Regions from separate parts of the Homo sapiens genome. Here regions 1, 2, 3, 5 and 6 are each reported to be linked to region 4. The links are microRNA targets in miRTarBase. Many come from high-throughput screens and were not tested one by one. Region 4 holds a microRNA gene; each other region holds the end of a gene's coding sequence.

Evidence for each region. The annotated mature microRNA hsa-miR-4736 reads AGGCAGGUUAUCUGGGCUG and lies in region 4 at 2,525-2,543, opposite strand. An mRNA with a match to its seed (bases 2 to 7 or 8) in the 3' UTR can be bound and repressed. Matches are read on the target gene's strand: a 7mer-m8 pairs with bases 2 to 8, a 7mer-A1 pairs with bases 2 to 7 and ends in A, and an 8mer does both.
Region 1: miRTarBase lists STOML3 as a target of hsa-miR-4736. Seed matches in the 3' UTR shown: 8mer at 2,400-2,407.
Region 2: the mRNA of MATN3 is a reported target of hsa-miR-4736. Seed matches in the 3' UTR shown: 7mer-m8 at 2,777-2,783.
Region 3: miRTarBase lists EIF3L as a target of hsa-miR-4736. Seed matches in the 3' UTR shown: 7mer-A1 at 1,068-1,074.
Region 5: the mRNA of WNT7B is a reported target of hsa-miR-4736. Seed matches in the 3' UTR shown: 7mer-A1 at 641-647.
Region 6: miRTarBase lists CD84 as a target of hsa-miR-4736. Seed matches in the 3' UTR shown: 7mer-A1 at 1,300-1,306.

Annotation. Positions count from the first base shown.
Region 1 is chr13:38,963,270-38,968,385 of GRCh38, reverse strand. It overlaps STOML3 (stomatin like 3), which reads left to right. Exons shown (of 7, transcript NM_145286.3): 7 at 1,337-2,461. The coding sequence ends at 1,561. Among named protein-coding and RNA genes, the nearest start is that of STOML3, 25 kb to the left of the region's middle. RefSeq lists an enhancer at 3,502-3,671.
Region 2 is chr2:19,989,531-19,994,646 of GRCh38, forward strand. It overlaps MATN3 (matrilin 3), which reads right to left. Exons shown (of 8, transcript NM_002381.5): 7 at 4,769-4,879; 8 at 2,522-3,636. The coding sequence ends at 3,581. It overlaps WDR35-DT (WDR35 divergent transcript), which reads left to right and starts at 674. Exons shown (of 3, transcript NR_110235.1): 1 at 674-964. WDR35 (WD repeat domain 35) reads right to left here and starts at 575. Exons shown (of 27, transcript NM_020779.4): 1 at 462-575. The coding sequence starts at 485. RefSeq lists enhancers at 306-355, 372-875, 506-555 and a silencer at 716-795.
Region 3 is chr22:37,888,081-37,891,080 of GRCh38, forward strand. EIF3L (eukaryotic translation initiation factor 3 subunit L) reads left to right here. Exons shown (of 13, transcript NM_016091.4): 13 at 346-1,327. The coding sequence ends at 384. Among named protein-coding and RNA genes, the nearest start is that of MICALL1, 17 kb to the right of the region's middle.
Region 4 is chr17:58,333,480-58,338,595 of GRCh38, forward strand. MIR4736 (microRNA 4736) reads right to left here and starts at 2,543; the gene lies at 2,497-2,543. TSPOAP1-AS1 (TSPOAP1, SUPT4H1 and RNF43 antisense RNA 1) reads left to right here. Exons shown (of 5, transcript NR_038410.1): 3 at 3,969-4,200. RefSeq lists enhancers at 1,843-2,343, 1,929-2,148, 2,219-2,268, 2,289-2,468, 2,489-3,030 and 6 more and a silencer at 4,809-5,103.
Region 5 is chr22:45,920,312-45,923,311 of GRCh38, reverse strand. WNT7B (Wnt family member 7B) reads left to right here. Exons shown (of 4, transcript NM_058238.3): 4 at 1-2,946. The coding sequence ends at 456. Among named protein-coding and RNA genes, the nearest start is that of WNT7B, 55 kb to the left of the region's middle.
Region 6 is chr1:160,544,388-160,549,503 of GRCh38, forward strand. It overlaps CD84 (CD84 molecule), which reads right to left. Exons shown (of 7, transcript NM_003874.4): 7 at 1-3,934. The coding sequence ends at 3,869. The region is part of intron 1 of CD84-AS1 (CD84 antisense RNA 1); the gene reads left to right. Among named protein-coding and RNA genes, the nearest start is that of CD84-AS1, 9.8 kb to the left of the region's middle. RefSeq lists an enhancer at 3,884-4,153 and a silencer at 5,051-5,100.

The DNA.
Region 1 (5,116 bases), not on the chromosome of region 4:
GTTCACACATGGAGGGAGAACTGCCTAGTGTTGGGGCCAACAAGGATAGGACTTGAACAGAAGATTGGGTCTGTCAATTATTTGCATGAGAAAGGGGTTTCTTTTCACAGTTTTACTGAGAATTTTCCCTGAATTAAAAGGTAACCAGCAGCTTACTGTACCTTGAGGAAGTTTGGTAGCAGGTCTTGGGTTAAGAGGATGCTCAGTAACGTACTGAGCAACTTAGCCAAGTAGGTCCCAACTCTAGCCGCATATCAGTGTTCCCTGGGGAGAATTTAACAAAACAAAACAAAATACCAATTTCCAAGCCTTACTTCAAACCCAGGCTTGAAGCAGTCTTGAGTGGGCTAAGAAACCTCTATTTTCATAAAGCTGGTGACTTAGATGTAGCCAACATGGAACCTGTCTTTTGCGCATTGTTGTTCTTGTATATTAAACGTTGCTGGAATAAAAGGGGGCAATTAAATACAATCCAGGTAAGAATTACAAAATGTAAGTGCACCCTGGCTCTGAATGTCCTTGAAATCTGTTGAGATTCTGACTTTCATGCCTGTGTGGATAACTTTCCTGAAGTATCAGAAATCTACTGGGATCCCAAGCCTTTGTGTATCCTCTTTGGAAACTTACTTGTTAGCTGATGAAGGTGTTTCTTTGACTCAAATCTGGTTTATCTGCTAAGCTCCAGCAGCTTCCAGGAAGGGACTCGGCAATGATAGAAGAGAGATCACTTTTGCACACAGGCAGATGGCCACAGATGAGGCAGCTGAATCACTCCTGGACAGTCTGAGAGCTATAAAGAGTGATGTACTTAAGAGATTGCCAGTGTTACAAGGCTGGCACTTATTGCTGCTTGTAATCAAGAGCCAAGAGAACTAGAAACAATTCTCGGTTTGTAAGAATGACACCAAAGTGGCAACAGAATGAACTTAAAAACATCTAAGATAACTAAAAATGATAAAAACATCAGTTAGAGGCCTTAAATTTCAGACTTCTCTGGAAATGAATGCAGCAAGTAGTGAGGCTCCAAAGTGCTTCCAGGCATTATTAGGGTAGATGCCAAGTATTCATTTGTATTCAAGAGAGTACTTTTATTTTTGTTTGATGATAAAATCTAGGGACCTACGATTTGTACAATATCCCTCCTTGCTTCCTGCAACCTCCTTGAATTTCTCTAATTATGTTAGGAAGTGAAACTTATCCTCGCCAAAGAAGTAGATGAAACACATGTGGCAACATGGGGGCTGGGGAGAGGGGTATCAATACAGACCCAGAAAAAGAAAGAACTAGTTATAGTGTAAACTTTTATTTCTGAACGATTTTATTTCTGTCATTTCAGGTCCTTGCAGCTGAAGGAGAAATGAATGCTTCCAAATCCCTGAAGTCAGCCTCCATGGTGCTGGCTGAGTCTCCCATAGCTCTCCAGCTGCGCTACCTGCAGACCTTGAGCACGGTAGCCACCGAGAAGAATTCTACGATTGTGTTTCCTCTGCCCATGAATATACTAGAGGGCATTGGTGGCGTCAGCTATGATAACCACAAGAAGCTTCCAAATAAAGCCTGAGGTCCTCTTGCGGTAGTCAGCTATTGCATAGAGAGTGGTGTCTATTCCTATGGAGAAGCCAGTAGTTAGAAACGGTGAGAATTCCAACACTGTTCATGTAACAGTAACTCCATAGATGGAAGAGCATTGGCAGGAAAAAGCTCTAGAGGCTATACAGAGAAGAAAAAAAGAGCAAAAATGAGACCTGTATATTACTTTTATTTTTAGGACCATAATCAACTTTGTAATATTCTTATATAATTAATTAGTGGTGGTCTCCGACTTTATAGCAGGAACTTTCTGGTAGTATGAGAAGAAATCATTGGGTGACTATGACTAATGTTTCAGAATTACTTTTTAATTGTTTTAAAAAGCACTCCAGATAATTTATAGAGTAACATAGGCCTCATATTTACACTATATGTTCGCTTTATAATTCCGAAGTTGTTATTTGCTAAATCTCCAATGGTTGCAATCAAACCCCACAATGCTGAAAACAGAGATTGATTTTGATGTTAAGAACAAAAGAAGTATGGAAACTTCCAGGCTCAAACATGTCCCCCGTGCCACAAGGCAAACTGCGATGAGCTCACAGTCCAGGTCTCTTGCTGTGTGTCCTGCAGGGAGTGGCCAACTCTCCACCTTCCAGCACCATTATCAGAGGGTGGGAAAAGGCACATGAAAGTGGCCAGCTCCTGTCAATTTATTTGCTTACAAGGGAGAATGCTTGGAAAGGTTGCATTGGTTGAAACCACTGAGGAGCATCACCCTGGGGATTTCATGTTTTCACTCTGTTCTTAGTCCCAGGAGCCACAGGTAATCGAGAATGTTTGTGAACTCTATCCACATCCCCTCCCCCACCTGCCAAATAACCTGTTCAAAACAAAGAAGGCATAGAATATAAATGAATTTCAAAAGTTACTTTTTGGGAGGTTATTTCGTTGCCATGGTGCAATTTCTTTTTGGAATCAGTTTTGAGAAATGGGCTAGAATTTTTAAAAGTTATTATTTATGGATCGTCTTTGTGTTACACTGTGCTTAGCCCTTTAGGGATGCCACAAAATATCTTTATTTTACAGATAAGGAAGTGATATTATGAGGCTAAATAATGTGGCCAAGATTCCCCAGCTAGTGAGTGTTGGATTAAGATAGAAAACCATGTCTCAGTCCAAAGTCCTTGCTCCTAAACATCATCAAGTTTTATTTTGAGGAAGTGTGAGCCAAGGAGAGAGAGCACTCTAGTTCCTTTTTGCTGTCAACACCAAACTTTTAGGTTCTGGAAGTCCAGGCACCTACTGTAGTGTCCAGGACTACATGTGCATGCACACATATGTGTATGTGTGAGCACACCATTCCCACGTGCTTCATGCTCCTTTTCACACTCCACACATACCCTCCATATAACCTCCCCACCCTCACATCCTCCACCTCTGCTCCCATCCCCTCCCTGTCCTTATCACACACATCCTTTCGACACATAGGCATCAGCTACATAGTGCAAAATGGGGATCACGCTCTATCTTTGTTTCATAACCCTCCCCCAACCCCAAGAAACCGTATGATTTTTGGACAATCCACAGCTTCTGAATCTAGTGCTTGATCCTACTGACTTGATGACTCCAGCACTCATGTTTAACCCACTAAGGCTCATACATTTTCATTATTTACTAAGAACTTGCCTTTTAACAGGGATTGAGGACTTAGGGACATAGGCAGAAACCTAAGATAGGTCACCCACATCAGCCAGAATCTGAGTCCATGAAGTTATGCTATTTAGACACTTAACTGATAGCCCTTACATCTTCACAACAATGACACAGGTTCAACCCAGGCCAGGGCACCTCCGACACTGAGAGCCATGCGAGAAGGAGGCTCTGCTTATACAAGGACATCTTGGTGGCCCACTGCAAAAATCTCTTTTTAGCCTTGTTCCAGAAGTCTAGAGTTATTCCTTTTTTTTGGTTTCAGTGATTTGCATTAAAAATGCAAATCTTTCCTGGCAATGTACATCAAACTGTAAACTAGTGGTTCTTGCTGGAGGTAAACATTGTCTCACTCATTTAGAACCTCTTTTTTAAAATGTACAACCTGCTTGCATCCCTGTGGATTGGCAATGGGGGTATGAGAGCTGTATCAGAATATTTGAGGCTGTGGGAAATGCAGTTTGAAAACTTCCTGGGAAATTCAAATTATTCCACCTCCTCCAGTACAAAGCTTCATTAATTCTTTAGCATTATAATAAATCACTTACTGCCTTAGTTACTAAAGGCTGACTAAAGAAGGCTCCTATGAAGGTGAGTATATTTTGTGGCCAAGGGTCTGGAGAAGAATCAAGAAAGGGTCAGAGTTCTTCTGGAATGTGAATGCCAAGGCTGATATTCAAAACACAGTCATATGCACCTCTAGAATAAGACTAAAGGTTTTTTTTTTTTTTTTGCTTGTTTGTGTTTTTTTTTTTTTTTTGTCTGTTTGTTTTCTGGGGTGGTGGGGGAAGTTGGAAGGCAGGGTGAGGCCAGAAGGGGGAAAGAGAAGACAACCTCTCTTGTAGAGAGAAGTGTCCATTCTCCTTGTAATGCAGCTCCAGGGCTCACGGTCATCACCACCGATATTGAAGCCAGTGCAGATAATCCCAATCAGGTGGTTTTCCTGTTTTAACAACAGGAAAGGATTGGCATGACCATAGTGCTGAAGCAGGGTTCGAAGTCCCCAGTCATCACAGACATCGCCCCTTTGTTGCTGGGCCTGGAGGTAATACCAGTGATACTGGTGGTGCTATTTCAGTGAGTTCAGGCTGTAGTAACAAAATACCATAAATTGGGTAGCTTATAAACTGTCAATTGAAATTTATTTCTCATAGTTCTGGGGGCTGGGAAGTCCAAGAATAAAGGTGCAAGCCTATTTGGTGTCTGGTGAGAGACCAATTCATAGACTGGGCCCTCTCCCTGTGTCCTCAGTTGGTGGAAGGGGTGAGGGATCTCTCTGCCTCTATGTTATAAAGGCACTAATCTCAATCAGGACAGCTCTCACCTCATGACCTAATCACCTTCCAAAGGCCTCACTTCCTAATATCATCACATTGGGGGTTAGGATTTCAACGTATAAATTTTGGGGGTGACACAGACATTCAGACCATAGCAGATGCTTGCAGGTGGAATGCTAGTTGTGGTAAATGTTCATTCCAAGAGCTTCTGAGCTGCCAGAGGACAATGGAAAGGCACTGAGAGATTGAGGAATGGGGGAGATGCTGCAAAGGAGTCTGGACTGGGGGAAATGAAACCTGGAGAAGACTTTGAAGGTCATCTAATCCAGTGGTTTCTAGCCATTATTTTTAAAACCTCGAAATATTCTTTAAATAAAAATTTAAAGTGAAACCCAATAGTTATATGTCATATAATACACTTTTGGTCAATGAAAAACCACAGAAACAATAGTAGTCCCATAAGATTATAATACTGTAATTTTACTGTACCTTTTCTATGTTTAGATACACAAATACTATTGTGTTACAGTCACACATAGTAACATGCTGTACAGGTTTGTACCTAGGAGCAATAGGCTATGCCATATAGCTTGGGA
Region 2 (5,116 bases), not on the chromosome of region 4:
ACCGGATGGATTTTTTAAAGGGAGGACGGGGAGAGGGTATAAATCCATACCACCAGTCCCTCTTCCTTTTTACCTACAACTTAGGCTATCCTATTGTTATTTCTTTTCTCTTGCCCAATGGCTCGTGGTGATCCAAAGAGTTTAAATCACGTGGATCAGCAACAAGTGGAGGAGGAAACATAGGGTAGCACGTGGCGACTTATCCTCAAGCCACCCAAAAGGACCTAGCCAGGGGCAGGAATGGGAGAGTGCTGCGAGAGGGCAGCAAGCTCGGCCAAAGACTGAGGCTCTGGGAACCGCAGGAAGAGGTCGGAGGCTGGACCCGGCGGGAAGGATGGCTGCGGAATGGCGAAGCCACGACCAGGACCGGGTGAAGGAGCCTGGCTTCTCGGGAAGGCAGCGGGAATCGCCGCAGGCTGCGGGAATGGCGGAGAAACGAGGACGCCCCCCAGGAAACTCACTTTCTTGCTCAGGTAGAAGAACATCGTGGGATCCCCGAGAGGGTCACGGCGGCCGCTAAGGCCCTCGACAAGTAACGGTTCTACGTCTCCAATCGGGAGTACCAGCAGCTCCGGAAAGCTCCCGTCGCCCTGGCAACCGCTGTTGCCCGGTCGCATCCGGGGCGCCGCGGGACACTTCCGGTGACGCCCTCGCACCGGGCACCGGCGTAGTGCGCCTGCGCGGACGTCGATGGGTTTGTGGGCGCAGGGCGCGAGGCGCGAGGCGGTAGCTGGGCTAGTCCTGTTCCCTGGCGTCTGGGCCTTTCTGCTCTCCGCAAGGAGCTGGGTCGCGACCTGTCACTGCCAGCCGTGCGCTCGCCCTCTGCGCCCCGTCTCGTGGTCACTGCCGCCCTCCCTCCCGCCACACCTGTGATGATCGCTATGGAGCCGCGCCTCAGGTGGCATTACTATAAACCTAAGAGGAGAGGCGCCCGTTCGAATAAGGGCAAATTATTTAGTATTTTGTAAGTTCCAAAGTTCCAACATTCTTGAAAGGGAAAAGCCATTTACTGTATTTGATAGGCTGGCGCCACTGGCCAGATGAAAGTGCAAATGTGCGTACTGAGATCTTACAACCCTTCTCTGTGTCTTTGGGGATTGGAGAACCTCTAGAGCAATTTAGGAATAGAAGATTTTGTTTATTCCGCTTGTTTTGATATTTTTTAACAGTTTAATTATTACCGCAACCCCGAGGGTCCTTTTAAAGGAATTTCTGTAAACGTTGGGTAATTACAGCGTACAATTGCTATTGGGGCATGGCCTCCCATTTTACAAATATTTGAGCGTTTGGTGTTTTCTCGTCTAGAGTCGACTGTTACATATTCTCTTCTTTTTCTTACCTTCTTTCTTCATTCTCCTTTGTCCTTTTGGAATGCTTGAGAGTTACAAAGCCTCAAAGTCTAAGGCATAGGGCAGAAATCCAAGTAGAACCACTCATGAAATTATTTGGTCTCACCTATGTTTTTATTTCTGGTTTTCCCTTTTACCATAATCTAGCATGTAATTTATGCATCAGTAGTTAATTTCCCCACTTGGAGTCTTTTCCCATCTCAGACAAAAATAAAATAAAAATCCTCCAATCCTTTGACCTGGGTGATTTGTCTCACCCAGCACAATCTATTATAGAATTGACAATAGTCCCTAGTGCCTTTCCTAGCAAATCTAAACTCCATCCAAAATCAGATCTTCCCTCAATCCTAAATGTTTTTACTAGGGAGCCCCCACCTCAAGTAAGCCAATATGCTTTCTGCAGGGCAACATTCCATCCGGCTCTGCTTCCCAAGCCACTTTATATATGGTCCTACCCTCTTAACAGGCCAGTTGTGCCTAGCCAAACCAGCACAAATCAGTCTCCATGAGGAATTCTTTCCAAACTTAACCCAATCCCATTCAGATAATGTTTGCTTTCCATTGTTTGTGTGTCTGTTTAAGATACATTGGCCCCTGTCCATAGGCTCCCTATACTGGACGCATGAGACAAATTAGTATTATCTAACCCAGGAGTTTCCAATAAACTGGTCAAGACATAATTAGTTGAAGCTAGTTACTGATGGTGACACCTGAAAACTCACCTCTCTTTATCTTTCCCTTCTTGCACATGAACTCTCATTTATTCCTTCTATACCACCATTTCTCTGTGGTATATTAATATGTATTACTGATTTTGGGCTCAAAAAAGTCTGGAAAATACTACTGTAGCTCTATGTCATACCCTTTCAAAATTTTTGAAAAGTAAGAGATGCTTTATATATTTCCTTGGTATATTTAGTTTTTGTTCCTTCCTTAAAGTTTATATTTTATATTTACATCTGTAGGATATATTTGCTTCTCAGGAGCTTATATTAATGTAAAGCTCATCATTATTTTATCCAAATTTAGATAATTTTATATTGAAGCCTTTCTTTTGAACCTGAACTTACACTTTTAGCCTCAGGAGTGTGAGATTAAACTATAGGAGGAGAATCAAACTTCTGTCTTTTGATAAGAAACTGTTGAATATCAAAATAACTGTTAATTCAGTATAATTTAAAGAAATATCTTTAATAGACAAAATTGATGAGTCATCAAAAATAGACATGATAATATGTAAAGGTAATAACTTTTATTATATTAAAGACAATGCAAACGAAAAACAGAATTGAGCAGTGCAAAATTTAAAGGACTGTTTTGTTCTCAAAGTTGCAAGTTTCAAAGCCAAAAGAATTATATGTATCAAATATATAAGTAAAAAAAAGTTAGACTTTCAAGCCTGTAATCCCAGCACTTTGGGAGGCTGAGGCAGGTGGATCACTAACATTAAAAAGACAACATTAGATTTTGTCGATTTATAGCAATTTTATAAATATATAACTTTGTCACTTGGATCCTGAAGCAAAATAATAAAGTGAATTTGGGATTTTTGTACTTGGTAAAAAGTTTAACACCCTAAATTCACAACTAGTGCTCTTTAGTAGTACATTTCTTTCAAAGACCAGAATGAATTAAAAATGGCAATGTAATGTTCACTTGATCTGTGTTAACTATTTTTAGATATGTGTATTACAATCTATTGATCACATCTTCAATAATACTCCAACAAAATAAGCAAAAAACAAAAAGTGTTAAACAGTTCAAAATTACATTCATCTCAGTTATATGAAGTTGTATGTGTAAATACCTTGTACAATTTGCACTCTCAGTAATAAGATTGATTTATATTATAAATACTATCAAAAGAAACTAGACCTAAAGTTTCCATTGTGAATATGGTTATCTAATATAAACATTTAAAAATTAAATGGCTCAATTAGTAGATAAAGAAACACTAAACTTTTCATTCTATTTCCTACCAATCATTTCACAGTCATAACTTAGAGACACTAAAGTTTGCTCTTAATAAGTATCTGCATATGTATTTCCTTGGAAGAATCATGCTGATTCTGCAGAAGATCTTCATACAATTTATCCAGTAATATTCAAGCATTAATACAGATAATGGCAAATTATTAGCAGGAACATTGGCAATAACAGGTGTGCAAAAGAATGCATGAGTATTAAGTACACCAAGCTGTCCACATTTTCAGGTGAGAAATTGGAGCAATTTAACGATGTATTTGTCCATATTCATTTATTTTCAACTTCTCCAAAATGTCATCAAGTGGCAAGTTGTTAAGGCCAACACCATTTATTTTTACACATTAGAAAATATAAACACACTTTCAAACACTTCACAAGATAAAATAATTATGTCCTATGAGAAGTGAAAAAAAAGAGCAAAACTGTTTTCTCACCAAAAGTTGAATTCAGTCTAAAAGTCAAAAATCCTGTTCTTCAGAGAGCACAATAAAAGTAGACCCCTGCAGTGGTCTTCAGATGTTTTTGTTCATATAAAATGTAATTGGAGTAGCATCTTAGTGTGAGGGATGGGGGAAGCAGTGTTTATGAAGTATTGATTAAAGGGATAGTTGGATTGTCCCTTTGTTTGGCTATCTCAAGATTCTGCTGTTCTAACAAATGCACCTTAGTAGATCTAGGGTAAATGAGAAGTATGCCTTTCTTGTGTGAAGTTAGGAGAATGGTGATATGGAAATGAGAGACGGGAAAAGAAAATGCCAGCTGATTCCAAGTAGTGTCTTAAGCAAGTGAAGGATTTGGAAATTGATTCTTTCCAATTATCTGTACCTCCCTTAAAAGTCTCTACATACGCCTAGATTGTACCTACCACAATCTAAATTCCACTCCTCTGGGGTACATAGGAACAGAGTTGTTAACTTGAACTGTTCTGAGAAACTTTTCCCTAGTTACTCCTTTGAAGAAAGAACTGATTTTGAAAGTTTCTGAGATTGTATCATGTTACATTTTAAAATCTGCTTTTTGACCACTTGGCTAGTCAAAGGGTACAACTGTGTGTAATCTGAGATATCACACCCCATTAATCAGCTGACTTGCTTTGTACATGTTCAGATTCTGAACTAAGAAAGCCATATTAAGGAGTCATTAGCATAAATGTTCCATCTGTTATGTAAGAGCATCATTAGGAGCATATACAGTTATGGAAAAGCACTAGGGGACAAAATAGGCAGCTTTTACATGTAAATATTGAATGGGTGAAACAGTCTATTAAACCATTAGAAAAGAACTCTAAATTTTTTAAAGTTGTATATTACCACTGCTCATATTAAAACCTAACAAATAAGTCACTTGCCTGTGGAATGTCTTAAAGTGTTTGGCTCGATCGTAGTACCTTGGTTGGCTCCAGGCAGAAGGAGAAAACCTTCCAGAAAGGATATGTTTAGTGTTCAGTCTTTGAAGATACGAGCTGACCTTGTCCTGGAATGCCAGTGTAGCTTCACATCCACAAGCATCTTCAGTGGAAACAAGTCTTCGTGCTTCCTCAGTGGCTGAAGACAATGACAGTACACAAATATACTATCTAGGAATAGCTATATAGGAATCATAACAAATCAGGAAATCCACAGTTGAATATTTCCACCGTTAAGACTTACCTAAGTGCATTTTCCAAGAGGTAAAGGGATAGATGAACAAACAAAAAGACGAGAAAATACTTATCACAGAAAAATTCATCTTAGGATACATTGGGGAAAATGTTTATAATTGTCAAAGCTGAGTGATGCTTA
Region 3 (3,000 bases), not on the chromosome of region 4:
TGTCTTCTAACAAGGATCCTGTTCAAAGCTTCTCATTCTTCCCCTAACTGAACTAGTAACCTTGAAACGTCTGGCCAGTCTGAATCCTTTTTCTGTCAGATGGATAGAGCAGTGTTGTGTATGGGTTTGTTGAGTGTGAAGGGCAGATAAAAGAATAATCCGCGTGAACTGTGCAGGGCCATATGAATGTCACGGCTTTGCACACACATAGTGGACACCCACATCAGAAACTTCCTTTCTTGGCTTCAGAGGGGCAGCTGGGAATCTGACCTAGTGATCATACACACTGTAGGAAAGGGGTTGGGGAAATCCCCGTATGTAACTTTGCTTTTCTTTCTCTTCTAGCTTAATCGAACCCTGAAGAAGATGGGACAGAGACCTTGATGATATTCACACACATTCAGGAACCTGTTTTGATGTATTATAGGCAGGAAGTGTTTTTGCTACCGTGAAACCTTTACCTAGATCAGCCATCAGCCTGTCAACTCAGTTAACAAGTTAAGGACCGAAGTGTTTCAAGTGGATCTCAGTAAAGGATCTTTGGAGCCAGATTTGTCGTCTCATTATTGTAGGAGAGAATTTGTGGGTTGTGGCAGTAATACATTTCCCATGTGTCCTGATGCTTTCAGGATACATCAGTTGTTAGTGTTTAAATTGAGTTATTTTTATTTTGTGCTTTTGAGATGGAGTCTCACTCTGTCTCCCAGGCTGGAGTGCAGTAGCGTGATCTCAGTTCGTTGCATCCTCCGCTGCCCAGGTTCAAGCAGTTCTGCCTCAGCCTTCCAAGTAGCTGGGATTACAGGCGTGTGCCACCACACTCAGCTAATTTTTGTATTCTCAGTAGAGATGGGTTTTACCATGTTGGCCAGGCTGGTCTCGAACTCCTGGCCTCAAGTGATTCGCCTGCCTTGGCCTCCCAAAATGTGCTAGGATTACAGGCATGAGCCACCACGCCCCGCCTAAATTCAAAATCTTTTTGTTTTTTTTTAGACGGAGTCTCACTCTGTCGCCCAGGTTGGAGTGTACTGGCGCGATCTCGGCTCACTGCAAGCTCCACCTCCCAGGTTCCTGCCATTCTCCTGCCTCAGCCTCCCAAGTAGCTGGGACTACAGGCACCCGCCACCATGCCCGGCCAATTTTTTGTATTTTTTAGTAGAGATGGGGTTTCACCGTGTTAGCCAGGATGGTCTCAGATTTCCTGACCTCGTGATCTGCCCATCTCTGCCTCCTAAAGTACTGGGATTACAGGCGTGAGCCACCGTGCCCAGCCCTAAATTGAATTCTTAAATCCCTCTTGTTCATAAAGCAGTATATTTGGTTTACAGGACATTTTCACGTTCAGTATTTTGTTTGTGCGTCACAAGATCCTATGAACTTTAAATGACCTATAATTTTCATGACATATTTGTGGCAGTGCTGGGTCCTGGAAGGAAACTATTGAACACCTCCTACTGCCAGGAACTGTGCAAAGAGGGATCCATATACATTACTTACACCTTACAACTCAGGTTTAGTAGTAGTTCCTCATCTTATTGATGAGGAAATGAACCCACAGTAGTTAGTGACTTGATCAAGGTCACATTAGGCAGCTGCTGGAGCTGAGCTAAATGGTTTCCTGCCTACCCACAGTATTAATGCTATGCCTGTCACCCTATAGTGGGTACTTGGACTGGAAGCCCCTGCTTGCAAGTTGTCTCACATCTCTGCCTGGTTCCTTGTATATAAAATAAGGTTAGCAGGCCAGGCGCGGTGGCTCACGCCTGTAATCCCAGCACTGGGAGGCCGAGGCGGGCGGATCACAAGGTCAAGGAGATCGAGACCATCCTGGCTAACATGGCGAAACCCTGTCTCTATTAAAAATACAAAAAAATTAGCCGGGCGTGGTGGCGGGCGCCTGTAGTCCCAGCTACTCGGGAGGCTGAGGCAGGAGAATGGCGTGAACCCGGGAGGCGGAGCTTGCAGTGAGCCAAGAGATCGTGCCGCTGGACCCCAGCCTGGGTTACAGAGCGAGACTCCGTCTAAAAAAAATAAAAAATAAGTGTAGCAGAACCTGGCTCACTGGGCAGTGGTGACGAATAAATGAGAATGCTATTTTGAGTGCCCAGTGCAGTGCCTGGCCTATAATGGATGTTCAGTTACTGTTTCCCCACACTTGGAATTCGTAAGCTTTTCAGTATGCTCTTTTTCCCCATTGGTTTGATAATTATTATTGGGAACTGAATGGTGGTTCCCAAGAAGACATGTCCATATCCTAAGCCCTGGATGCCATCAGCATGACCTTATTTGTTTGGCTGGCATGCAGTGGCACGATCTCTGTTCACTGCAACGTCTGCCTCCCAGGTTCAAGCTATTCTACCTCAGCCTCCCAAGTAGTTGCATGCCACCATGCCTGGCTAATTTTTTGTATTTTTATTTTTGTTTATTTTTTTGAGACAGAGTTTTGATCTTATTGCCCAGGCTGGAGTGCAATGGCGCGATCTCGGCTCACTGCAACCTCCGCCTCCGGGGTTCAAGCGGTTCTCCTGCCTCAGCCTCCCAAGTAGCTGGGACTACAGGTGCACGCCACCACGCCTGGCTAATGTTTGTAGTTTTAATAGAGACGAGGTTTCGCGATGTTGGCCAGGCTAGTCTCGAACTCCTGACCTCAGGTGATCTGCCTGCCTCAGCCTCCCAAAGTGCTGGGATTATAGGCGTGAGCCACTGCGCCTGGCTTTTTGTATTTTCAGTAGAGACTGGGTTTCACCATGTTGGTCAGGTGGGTCTCAAACTCCTGACCTCAGATGATCACCCATCTCGGCCTCCCAAAGTGCTGGGATTACAGGCATGAGCCACAGTGCCCGGCCTTCTTTGTTTTGTTTTTGTTTTTGTTTTTGAGATGGAATCTCGCTCTGTCGCCCAGGCTGGAGTGCAGTGGTGCAATCTCAGCTCACTGCAACCTCCACCTTCTGGGTTCAAGAGATTCTCCTGCCTCAGCCTCCTGAGTAGCTGGGACTACAGGCA
Region 4 (5,116 bases):
AAGCCTCTCCATGGGCTTGGCTCTGGAAGCAAGAGGAATGGGTTTGGGGAGGTAGGAGCGGTAGAGAGAAAACCACCCAGTGACTCCTTCCCAGAAGGCCATGGACCTCTTCTCTGGGTCCTCCGTTTAGGCCCACACAGACCTTAGGGAGCTGTCAGATTCAGGGCCTAGAAGAGGACTGGCATGGGGGCAGTGGGGAGGGAGATGGCCCCACATCCTTCCCTCCAGGAAGGGGGTCCTTCAACCTGGAAAGTTGCCCCATTCCCAGGTCCCTAAAATGGGACAGAGAAAGGGGGAATGGGGCCTTTCACCCCCTTGAGTCTAAAGAGAAAGTGGTGAGGAGGGTTGCCTTGCAGGGCCAGCTGGCCAGAAATGGGGCGATACTCCTTTAAGAGACCACCGCTGCCTCTGACCTGGGTGGAGGGGAAGTGGCTGCCCCAGGCGATAAGAGGATAAGAATATCAAAGTTGTGCAGTAACCTGGGTTCCTGGACCCCCATTCTTCAGGGCTCCTCCCCTGAGAGCATCTTACCTCCTACTCCTGCTTATGATGCCTCCATAGCCCTCACTTCAGAGGCGTCCTGTCCCCACAAAAGAGAGTCACAGAATGGGACCCAGGAGCCCGGCTTCTGGGCCCAGCTATGCCATAGACCCCTCAGCATGTGACCTGTGGCGAGTCAGAGCTGAGGTTCCAAGGGACACACATGGCTCCAACAGTCTCCAATCTAGCCCTTCTCCTGTCCTGAGCAGGGTGAGGTGTCCCTGCTGCCTGTTGTCTTGTGACAACAGAGGCTGATTTTCTCTGTACAACCTCAATGCCTAAAGACCACCAATAGTTTTTATTTTTATTTATCTATTTTCTTTTTTTGAGAAGAGAGCTTAGGGCCCAGCTTCTCTGTCAACGGAGCTTCTGGGGTCAGGGGGTTTCTGGATAGTCTAGGCCCTCTGCTGGTTCCCATCCCGAGGCTGGGGCTAAAGAAGGATGGAATGAGGACCTGGACTTTCCCCAGCCCAGCGATGACTCCCGACTCTGCTGGGCCTCAAACCAGAAGAAATGGTACAGGGCCAGAGACAAAATCAAGGACAGGGGAAGGGGCAGAGTCTAAAATAAGAATACAGAGACAATAAGAAACTTTGTGAGAATGGCTAGGATACATGGAATGGGCCGTCCACCTGTGACTGGAACAAGGCTGCTGGACTCGAAGCCTGACGTAGGCTGCCACCACCCAGATGCGTGGCCTGTGTGACTGACCAGCAGGTGCCTGAGGGAAGAGCAGCCAGTGCCTGCATGGAAACACACATGCAGACACAGCGGCCCAGAGAGCCCAAAACATTCAGACACAGACACGCTGTCGCCGACACACCCCGCAGTCCTGTACACACACCTAGAGGAGGCCTATCTACACTCCTGGACACACCTGCGTCCTCCCCAAGAGACACAGGGAGGGTCACCTGGGAATCTGGGGCCAGTGCTTGACAGGGTGACTGGAAGGAGCTGGGGGTGGATTCAGAACATAAGTACCTCTGTGAGAGTGGCCTGGCTCCCACTCCTGCCTCCAAAGCCACCTGTTGCCTGAGTTCCCCAGGATGAGAAAAACCAAACCCTTGATGTCTTTGTGGAGAGAGGAGTTCAAGTTGATACTTCAAACTCCGCCTCCTTGGCGGCCGATCCAGGTTCAAGCAGGCTGTCACTGGGCAACCTTGGCTCACTTGGACTTGCTGTCAAAAGTCCCCCACGGCCCTCCCTGGTTCTGACATTCAGATTCTTGCTCAGAGGAAGTAGGGGGCGGGGGCGGCAGGAACAAGGTGGGAACAGCCCTTCATCAGGATAGAGGGATCTGGGCTTGGAATCCTGGAGGGCTCCAGGCTCATGGTCCCTCACTGCCACCCCCACCTTACCGACCTGGGGGACAACCATCTCTGTGTGCCAAGCTGAGGCTGTGGGTAGGCAAAGGTGAGCCGGCAGAGAAAAGGACACAGGACCTGTCCTTGGGCACTCCCAGCCTGATAGGCAGTGTGTACGAGTGTGTGTGTCAGTGCAAGTGAGTGTCTTGTACCCAAAGCAGGGGCAGAGCTTCAGGTCTGATGGGGACACTTGGTTCCTACTTCTAGTGAGCACTGAATCTGAGGGTGAAGTAGACACACACATCTACATTTAACATAGTAACGGCAACAGGCACAAGGCCATCCCAGGTGGCAGTTGCCAGGGCCCAAGGGGCTGGGATGTTGGATGCTGTAGTAGCAACCTTAGAGTCACAGGAGTCCCATCAGAGAAGGCTTCCTGGAGAATGTGAGTACAGGTGGAAGAGGGTTTAGAAGGAGAGATTGGGCAAGGAGGAGAAACAGGGAGAAAATTGTCTTTTGAAGGCCTAATGCCTGTAAGGAGAGCAGGCCCAGAGGGTGGAAGAAATGACACAAGCTCATTGTCCGCACATGAAGGCAGAAAAGAAAACCAACCCTTCCCTGCCATCTGCATGGGCCTGGGGCCCTCACTCACAGGCAGGCAAGCAGCCAGTGGGAGATGGCAGCCCAGATAACCTGCCTTACAAAGAGCCAACAAGAGAGAAGCCACAGACTTAACCACTCACAAACAGGAAGTCCAGAAGGCAGAGCAGACCCGCCCTCCAGTAAGCTACAGTTGGGGACAGGCCTGGCCACAAAGGAGGGAAACTGAGCCCCTAGCATTGCAAAATGGGGCTAAAGCAAATTGGAGTCAATAGTCCCAAATGTTGAGACCCTTCCCCATCTCCCTGGAGGGGCAGCCAAGGGAAGCAGGTGCCAAGAGAGGCAAGTGCCTTAAGAACCTAAGACAGCCCATGTCCCCTACAGAGATCATCTCAGCACCTCAGAAGATCTGTCTCATCTCAGAGCCTTGGGAGCACAAGGAGTGCTAAAGGGCCTCCAGGCAAGGAGGGCGGGCAAACTGGCTGCCCCTCAGCCCCTGCCTGCTCGTACCAGACTCCCCTAGGTTTAATTTCATACTCTCCTGCTCTACTCTGTCTGGCAAGGGGCAGCTCCAATGCACAGTGGCCCACACTAGGAGGTCACTTCGCACTGGGGCAGGGTTCTGGCTCAGATCTCCTGGGATCATAAGACCCAAGGACTTTTAAGCAGCAAGGTTAGGCAGCAACTGGTCCCGAGTCAGGAAACAGAGCTGCAAGCCCAGAGAGAGGCAGAAGGCAGCCTGAGGTCACAAAACAAGTTAGGGCCAAGTTGGGTTCTTTCCACAACATCTGGGAAAAGGCAGGACGGGCTGGGTGGAAAGGGGGTGTGGGTGTGAGGAAGGCTACCCTGACCACTGCTGTGGGAGTGGCCGTGAAACCAGAAGCTTTCTCCTCTGGGATCTTCTGGGGACACAAGTGGAGAGATGAAAGCTCCCTCTGGACTCTCTCCACACACAGGTGCTGGGTTTAACTTGCATAGCTGCACCTGCTCCAGTTCCAACTGCTGCAAATAAATTGTGTGTGTATGTGTGGCGGGGACAGGGAGGGGGTCCAAGAGCTGGTTTTCTGCCTGGAACCCACTACAATCCCTCATCAGCCCCACTCCCTATCCCAACATCAGGATCACCAAGCAGAGGATAAAATTAAGTGTCAAGAAACTAGGGGTCTAATCCTCACCCTGTGATTATTTATGGTACAATTCTGGGCCAGTCACTGAATCTGCCCCTAAACCCCAGCCTGTTTCTTCACCTATAAAAATGGGGAGGGAGTTGACCAAAAGACTTGTTTGTGCTCTAGGAAGTCCCCAAGAGCACAGGAGCCCAGAGACCTCGCAGGAGGAAGCAGCAGTATCTGTGTTCCAAATCCTGCCCAGCCCCCAGGCAGCCATGGTATCTTCTCAGCTGGCTCGAGGGCACACCTCCCAAAATGCAGAGAAGGCAGGGTGGCTAGGAATGGCTCTAGTAGAATTCTCCCCTTATCTTGTCTGGAAACAAGGGGCAAAGAGCTATCTATTTCCTCCTGCCAGCCTCCTGCCCCCAACAGGATTCCTCACATCCCAGGACCAGCTGGAAAAGGTGGTGAGAGTTGGAAAGAGACTGCTCAGTGAGGACTGCCCTGCGAACCAGCTTGGATTCATCCCGTTCACCTCCACGTTCTGCACTCGGGGCCGAGGGAAGGGAGGCAGCCCAGGCAGCTAGAGAACTTGATGAAACACACTCAATCTGAATCTCGCTTGATCGTCATGCTGACCCAGTGAGGTAAGTGATGGTATCCCCATCTCAGAGATGAGGAACCGGAAACTCAGCGAGGTTAAGTTTCACCTTCCTGAAAATCGGGCACCCCGTTTCTGTTCCCCAGAGGGAGCTCAATTCAAAGTCCCCAAAGAACAGGTCTTCTGTGAAGACCTGTTCTCCCCTCACAACCCCGTTGGAAAAAGCAGTGGGAGCGACCCAGGGCGGACCCTCTGGCCCAGGCTTGTGGGTTGGGGGGCAGAGGGGCCTAACTGGGTGGCCAGGTGGCCCGCAGAGTCTCTCCAGCAGCAGATGGCCTCCCCAGCCCTTTCCTTCAGAGCCTATTAAGCAGTCAAATGGGGGAGGGTTGGCCCCCAAGGCCAGGGACCCAGCAGCAGCAGCAGCTCACAGCACTGGAGCCGTTAAAAAGTGACTCAACCAGAAAGTGCGTTTGAAGTGACGCCCGCCAGGGCCCCAGAGCCCCAGAGCCCCAGAGCCAAACCTCAAAAAGACGAAGTGAGAGAGACAGGCCTGCGGGGGCTGGGCCGGGGGTGGAGACCCAGCCTGGAGCTGGCCTGGCCAAATAAGGGCAAATGCACTAGGGCGGGCCAATGGGGCAACAGCGGCTGGCTGCGTCATGGGGCTGCGGCTCTGGGGAGGGGGAGGTGAGAAGCCTGGGACAAAATGGGGGTGGGTGTCAGGGGTCCCGGCACCTCTTCGAGGGGTCCCAGGGTGGGTGAACACAGGAGGCATGGAAGCCCTCACCCCCAAGGAGCCTTTGTTACTAAGGTCAGTGGACCTGCAACCCCAGAGCCCCACCTGCAGGCTGGATGGGGTTCAAGGAAGAAAAAGGGAAACCTGGAGGACCCCCATGCCCCTGCCCCAGTTATGGGCCCTGGATCCCCATCTGCCATGGAGAACTGAAGGGAGGCCATAGGGACAG
Region 5 (3,000 bases), not on the chromosome of region 4:
GAGTGCAAGTGCCACGGCGTGTCTGGCTCCTGCACCACCAAAACCTGCTGGACCACGCTGCCCAAGTTCCGAGAGGTGGGCCACCTGCTGAAGGAGAAGTACAACGCGGCCGTGCAGGTGGAGGTGGTGCGGGCCAGCCGTCTGCGGCAGCCCACCTTCCTGCGCATCAAACAGCTGCGCAGCTATCAGAAGCCCATGGAGACAGACCTGGTGTACATTGAGAAGTCGCCCAACTACTGCGAGGAGGACGCGGCCACGGGCAGCGTGGGCACGCAGGGCCGTCTCTGCAACCGCACGTCGCCCGGCGCGGACGGCTGTGACACCATGTGCTGCGGCCGAGGCTACAACACCCACCAGTACACCAAGGTGTGGCAGTGCAACTGCAAATTCCACTGGTGCTGCTTCGTCAAGTGCAACACCTGCAGCGAGCGCACCGAGGTCTTCACCTGCAAGTGAGGCCAGGCCCGGAGGCGGCCGCGGGCACCCTGGAACCCGGCGGCATTTTGCACATCCACTCCTCACCTTCCCTGCCTTGGTGCTGCCAGCAGCAGACATAGACGGGTGCAGAAGCGGGGAGCTCCAGGTGCAGGAGGGCACCGGCCGGGGCCCACGCCCTCTGCCCGCCTCCCTGGGGCTCCTTCCTGCCACCTCCTCCCATCACCTCCTGCGGCAGAACAGCACCCGTGACCCACCCAGAGAGCAAGGCCAGGGGTCTTGGTGCTCCCCGACGGGGCCCGGCAAGTTCTCTTTCTTCTCTCTGGGAAAATGAACGTCCAGGACACACCTGTATCCCAGAGAGCAAAGTGATGAGGAGACTGAGCGTCCCCAGCCCCACCTGGCGGCATGGACACAGAAAAGCTACGCCGGCTGGCCTCTCCAGACCAGTTCCCAGGCTGGGTCTGCCGCTGGGCCCTGGGGCGGTGGGGACAGATGTTGACACAAATTATTTATGTTTTCTTAGTATCAGAAGAGGATTCTCGGCACTAACACATAGCCAGTCCTAACTCCGTACTCTGTGTCAGCCCATCCCCTAGACACCCTCTGTTTCCTTTCCCGGCCCCACCTGGCCGGCCCTCTGCCCCTGCAGAGCTGAGGCAGCCTGGGGTTGATGGGGACCACGCGGTGCCTGCAGGTCCTAGAAGTGAGCTGGGCAGGGGCTCTTCAGACCACACAGCCCTGACCGGGCCTTGGAGGAGAGCCATGGACAGGCTCCTCCATGCCGTCTTTCCTTCTTTTGAAAATCCTATCAATGGCTGGGCGCGGTGGCTCACACCTGTAATCCCAGCACTTTGGGAGACCGAGGCAGGTGGATCACCTGAGGTCAGGAGTTCGAGACCAGCCTGGCCAACGTGGTGAAACCCTGTCTCTACTAAAAATACAAAAATTAGCTGGGCGTGGTGGCGTGCACCTGTAATCCCAGCTACTCAGGAGGCTGAGACAGGACACTTGCTTGAACCCGGGAGGTGGAGGTTGCAATGAGCCAAGATTGTGCCACTGTATTCCAACTTGGGTGACAGAGCACGACTCTGTCTCAAAAAAAGAAAAGAAAATAATATCAAGCAAATCAAAATATCACCCACGTCAGGTTCCAGGAGTCCTTCGTTCCCTCCCTCATCCTGTCACCCTCCCGGCCTGGCACCTCCAGTTTACAGAGACCCCCTTCCCCCTGGAGCCAGCCTGACCCCTGGGACAGTGCTGCCGCGGGGGTCAGGCAGGTGGTGAGTGGTCAGGGATGTTTGTCCCACTTGACAGATGGGAACTCTGAGGCCCAGAGTGGCACAAGGACCTACCAGAGACCCTGCAGCTGTGACTGGAGGCTTCCACCTTTCTCCTGCCCAGCCTGGGGCTCTGGACCTGGGAGAACACATCAGGATGCCCGGGGTGGCAGTAGGTAGCTCCCATGCCTTGAGGCACTTGGCTGCTCCCTCCACCCCCTGACAGCCTCATTGGGGCCTGCACTCCCCTCGGTGCCTTTGAGGCTTCGCCTAGCCCTGTCCTGGTCCTTTTACCCTGACCCCAGTGCTGAGAAAATCTGGATCCAGAGCTGGACATGTCCTTTCTGGATGCTCCCACCCCTGTCTCTGAGGAGCATGAGTGACAGAGGGAGGAACTTGTCCGAGGCCAGAGAGGATGGTCTGCAGCTGGCTCCTGGTGCACCCCCACTGCCCACGGCCTGGCCCCCATTTAGGGTGTGTTCTCTTGGAAGCCCGTAGGAATGTGTTCTTGAGCAGCCGACAAGCCAAGGGCCTGGGCTCAGCCTGGGGCAAGTGGGTCCCTCCTGGGCTCTGGCCCTGTGGTCCAGCCCATGTGCCTCTAACCATGCCTGGACGCTCTGAGTCTCCGGGCCACCGTGAATGCCCCACCCTCAGCCTGGCCCCATCCCCTTACCTTCCCCAAGTCCCAGAACACACCTGAGTCCATAGGCCCGGCAGCCTCTGCAAGGAACCTGGTTAACTTATGTTGTTATATAGCGTCGAAATGTCTATAGTGTCTTTAAATTATTGTGACCTACACTGGGTACCGGAGAGGGGGATGGCTGCGGCCCCCATCCCTCATCCCCCATCCCATCCCATCCCTCATCTCATCCCTCATCCCATCCCCCATCCCATCCCTGACCCCATCCCCCATCCCATCCCTCATCCCTATTCCCCATACCCACCCCCCATCCCATCCCCCATCTCCCGAACCAGGCTCCTCCTGCTTCAACAGACCCTTGGGGCCCCTGATGCCACCGAGACACTCGCACTGTCCCTTGGCTGCCGGGCACCCCACTGAGCCCCTGCCCACCCCAAAGTCTGCCAGCAACAGGCCCTTTGCCTGGGTGAGACGGGGGTCAGGGTGGCCCAGATGGGGGTGATGGCGACCAAGGTGCTGCGTCCCCACCCTTCTGACGGCAGCCTCCCCTGGAGGGGAGTGCTCGGCCCAATAAAAGCTGGAATCGGAAAAGTGAGTGTGTGTGGAATCCCCATGCGATGTACCTGCAGCTGCGGCCCCACCGGT
Region 6 (5,116 bases), not on the chromosome of region 4:
ACCCACCTTGGCCTCCCAAAATTCTAGGATTACAGGCATGAGCCACTGCGCCTGGCCTTCAAGCTTCATTTTACAATCAGTAGACACTGTCACTAATTATTGAGAAAATTTATACAAATCAAGGGAAATTCAGAGAAAAGTCAAACAGAAGAAAAATAATGAGTCTGGAAGAAAATATAGCCCAGCCATTCCTTCTCTCCAGGCAGGACCTAAGAAGTGCTCTCTGTGGACACGGCCCAAACCAGACAGGCCCCTTCCTGCCTGTGCCCGATTTCCAAGCTGGCCCAACCAGGCTATTCCCTCATAGCCTGTGTAGTTTACAGTGTTCTACAGATTTTTTAAATCATATTTTAAACAAGCTTCACTTTCTTCTTCTAAGAATCATGAGCTGCAACATTCCTCATTTTCTCAGTTGAGTCCCTCAGTAAAGCCCAAGGTGTCTGCAGGCAGGACTGTCCTAACCTACTAGAACTTTCCACCAGAGGGCTCTGTCTCTGAGACTTCCATTTTGATGCACATTTTTAAAAACTGGCACACTTTGGTCTGATACAAGATCCTGTTCCATGATGCTTTGATTTTATAGACCTCTTGGTCACAGTCTAGTTCATCTGGAAAGTTGTGGAGGGGAAAATAAGATCACATGCATTTTACAGAAGGAAAATCTAAGAACTAAGACCTAGAGAGAAGGGTGAACAGATAACGTGTTCATGAATCAGGAGATTCATAGCAGAGAAACTGAGAGGAGAGACAAGAGTAGGGTGTCCTGAGTCCAAAGGCTACCTTCAGAATTCCTGGGCTCTGGCTTCATCCCAGGTTTGCTCTTCTGGAAGACCTAACAGATCTAACCTGCTTCTGATTTTTATTTTTGACAATATGCATAGGGGCATTAGGACACTAGTAATTTTACTTGAGTGAGCATATTAGGAAGAGGAAGAGGGCAAGTTAGAGAATAAAGATGTTTGGGAATGAGTCTTCAACGCATCCACAGAGTGAGGAGTGGTTTTATTTTAGGATAAACGCAGCCTGTTCAGTGTCACTTTGGAATTCCTCCATCCTTTATGACCAAGCCTCTTTCCTCCTTCCTGCACGTCTCTTCTTGGGGTGCTGTCTTTCACCTCCTTACAACTGGTTAGGTGCTTCAGCTGACCTCTTAGTTGGTCTGCCTAACTCTGAAAGTCTTCTCCCTCCAAAGTGCCTTTACACTAGGAACAGCCTCTGATGTATGCATCCTGATATTATTTTATTTTATTTTTATTTTTTGAGACATGGTCTCACTCTGTTGCCCAGCCTGGAGTGCAGTGGCAGGATCTCAGCTCACTGCAACCTCCACCTCCCAGGTTCAAGCAATTCTCCCACCTCAGCCTCCCAAGTAGCTGGGATTACAGGTGTGCACCACCACGCCCAGCTAATTTTTTTGTATTTTAAGTACAGATGGGGTTTTGCCATGCTGGCCAGGATCCTCTCAAATTCCTGACCTCAAGTGATCCGCCCACCTTGGCCTCCCAAAGTGCTGGGATTACAGGCGTGAGCCACCGTGCCCAGCTGCATCCTGATATTTAATGCTTGCCAGAATTTGATTGCACCATGCTTATTGGCTTCTATCTTTTTTTTTTTTTCGAGATGGAGTCTCACTCTGTCTCTCCCAGGCTGGAGTGCAGTGGTGTGATCTCAGCTCACTGCAACCTCCACTTCCTGGGTTCAAGCGATTCTCCTGTCTCAGCCTCCAGAGTAGCTGGGACTACAGATGTGTGCCACCACACCTGGCTAATTTCGTATTTTTAGTAGAGATGGGGTTTCACCATGTTGGCCAGACTAATCTCGAACTCCTGACCTCAGGTGATCCGCCTGCCTTGGCCTCCCAAAGTGTTGGGATTACAGGCGTGAGCCACCACCCCAGCCGGCTTCCGTTTATCTGTAATTCCCACATGTACAATGTAGTGAGGAAAACAAATAATTAGTTATGCTGTAAGGCTGAATGAGATGAGTTTTAGTGATAGAAGGACCAAAGAGGAAAAAACAGCAGTGTGAAAAGATCCCTGATTAATTTTGATTCCTGATACCAGGGAAAGCTTTACAGAAGAGGTACCTTTTGAGGTGGGCATTGAAGGACATGTAAATGGACATGGGGTGAGGGCACACATCTGGCTGGGACACTCTGCCACACATAGGCAAGGGACTGTGAGCATGCATGGTGCATCTGGAGAGGTGCTCTGAATACACCCCACTGATCCAGGCCCCTGCTCATTTTTCATGCTTCTCTCACTTGGAGGCCCTCTGTCTTCCTCATTCTCTATCCAAATTTCATCCATCCTTCAAGGCCCAGCTTCAGCCCTGCCCCCTCATAAGGTATTTTTCTGACTGTTCATGCTATTACTTGCAGCTGCAGTTCAGCGTTAACTGTAGTGTCTGTGCTGGAATTGTCTCCTGAGCTACACAAGAGCAGACATTATGCACATCTTCTACTTTGGGGCCTTGCAGCTCCTAACATAGTGCTAATGGTAGTTGGTGCTAGATGAGTCTATGGATTCATTTACTGGGACTGATGTCTTTATCTGCCTAATTGCAGCCCATTGCTGTCCAGCCTAGGACTATTCATTGGGATTTAGGAGTTAGCCGATTATACTTGCTAACACATAAGGGAAACACTTCCTTAAATGATCATATGAATGTCTTGCTCAGTTGTGAATGATTCTTCCTCATTGAGGAGAGTTAATGCCTGTGTAAGCTGGCTGGTGATCTGTTTGTGGGGCATGCCAGGGTGGCGGCACTCTGCCTCAGCTTAAACTCTAGTTCTCTGAGTCTTTGGAACTGGGATGAACCCAGTTTCATCATCTGCACCATCATCTCCCAAGTTCCTTCTGGAGAATGACTCTGCTTCTTGCAAGGTCTTCTATTTTGATGGTTGGATTATACCCAGTTCCCCAGAAGTGTGAGAAATATAAGCTGGTCAGTTCCTTTTGGAGAGTGGGAATACTGGGCATGGCTGCTTCTTCTGCTGAGGCTGCTTGGAGTGATACAGAAGGAAATCTTGGCCAGAAAGAAAATCCTATAAGGCTTCTGAAGTAGCACTCCAAGAAAAGTGTCCCAGCAGTCTCTAGACCCTGCAGAAAGAACATTTTCCAACACTCCATTTGGAGAGTGTGTCTACATGGCTGAGAGCCACAACTCTGACAGAGACCCACACAGCACTGTCATCTGTGTTTGGACTTACTAAGCCTGTTATGCCCTGCACAAAGATTCCCAGACAAAGGGATGAGTGTGCTTATATGCAGCCCACATTCTGCTCTCCAAGCCATGCACTCGGGGGAAGGGCTGCATCTGCCTCAAGCGAAGGGTACATTTTCCTAATTTGCTCAAGATGCGTGGTGAAGGCCACGCACCAGGGATCTTCACACATACTGACTGTGAGCAGAGCATCTTGGCTGGTGTGCCATGGCCTATTACAGGTGTGCAAAATATTGATCCCCTTCTCCCACAGTTACTGGGCAGGGTTGTTACCTCCAGTCACAAGAGGCCTCTAGTCATATGCAGCTTCCAGAAGTGAGCAATCTTGCTTGTTTATCCCAGTGTGCCATAAAAATATTATTTTCTACATGTGCTATGATGGGAAGAAGTTTGGGAAAACTATACTAGGTAACCTGCTTTGTCATTCATTCAGAAGGGAGTCATTTCAGGAAGGGTATGCATCCATTTGTCCATTTAGGCACAAGCTATGCCCAGCAGAAGGTTTCCTGCTTTGCTTACAGGCTGAGATGTGGCAGTTTGCAATCTCCCAGTAAGAGTTGGGCAGAGAAGATCTGGATCCAGGGAACCTGCCAGTATTGGTGGTTGTAACTCAGTTTCCAGAGGGAGAATTCAGCCCAGCAGCCTAGATCACAATTTCATAGCTTGAAGTCCCAGGAGGTTTACTGTCCTGTGTGCTGGCTTTCCCCATCTGTGCAGGAGAGAAGCGTGAGAAAATGTTAACTGAGAGGTGCTGCTGGGGAACTCCAGTCCTGCAAGTTCCCAGAGGAGTTAAGCAAATGGCACGGGGGAATGCCTTAGATTTGCCTCATGCTGGGGAAATCTGGGGTAGCAGGGCCTTGTTCTTTGCTGAGTCCCTCATGTCTGCTCCAGCTACCCCCCATTTGGGAGGCCCTGAGCAATTAACTTCTTAGCCCAGAAAAGAGCAATGGGAGGGAATGGGGGCGGGGGCATATTTGGAATGGATTTTGATTATAGACTTGAGGCAACATTCAGGTTCAAGCTACCTGCATTCCTTGTTCCTAGTTGACCCCTAGTTTTTTTGTATCCCAATAACTCCACTTTCACCTATACATAGTGGGGACTCACTGCCAGCATCTCCTGTGCTCTAGGCATTTAGAGGGCTGCAAACAATCTTCCCATTGGTTTGAGGAGTCTTAGGTTTTCAATTAAATACTGACCCAATAATTGTTATCTAACTTGTCTTTAAGGATTTATCTTGAGATGTCACAATCCAGGATTCCATGATTAATCCCTCGAATTTTATCTCCTTCTAAGTTAAGTTACTCTTGTTCCTCCAACTCTCCTTGAGATCCTGGCACAAATATGCTGGGCACCCTGACCCTCACTTCTTGCCTGTCCTCCTTTTCTTCTCCTCTTCTTTCCTCATTCCTCCCCTTCTTTTTCTTTCCCTCCTTCCCTCTCCTGATCACTAAGAAAGTAAATGTCCCTCTATCTGGTTGTCCAGTCCATTTGGCTTATCTTTTCAAGCAAACTGCCCTGTGCTTCAAGTCCTCCTTAAAAGGAAGTAGCACTGCCCTGCTTGTCGAGCTCATAGATGTCCTCCCTATTGCCTTATAGGATCACTCTCAATTCGTACTCAGTTTAGCTTCCTGCTTGGTAACTCAGCTATTAAACAGGAATACTTAGAAAACATGATTCTTTAAGCAACCCTAAAGCTGTCCTGATTGTAGCAGCAGTGAGGACCTTCAGATAGTGACAATCCCTCCTTAGATCCCCAAAATTTAAAGTCCTGTCAGAGGGCTTTGCATATGACAGAGAAGGACATAAGGCACAGGCATAAGGCACAAGGCACTTGGCACTACAAATGGTTGTGCAGGCTGCGTGTGGTAAAAGAGCAGCTGAGGGAGCA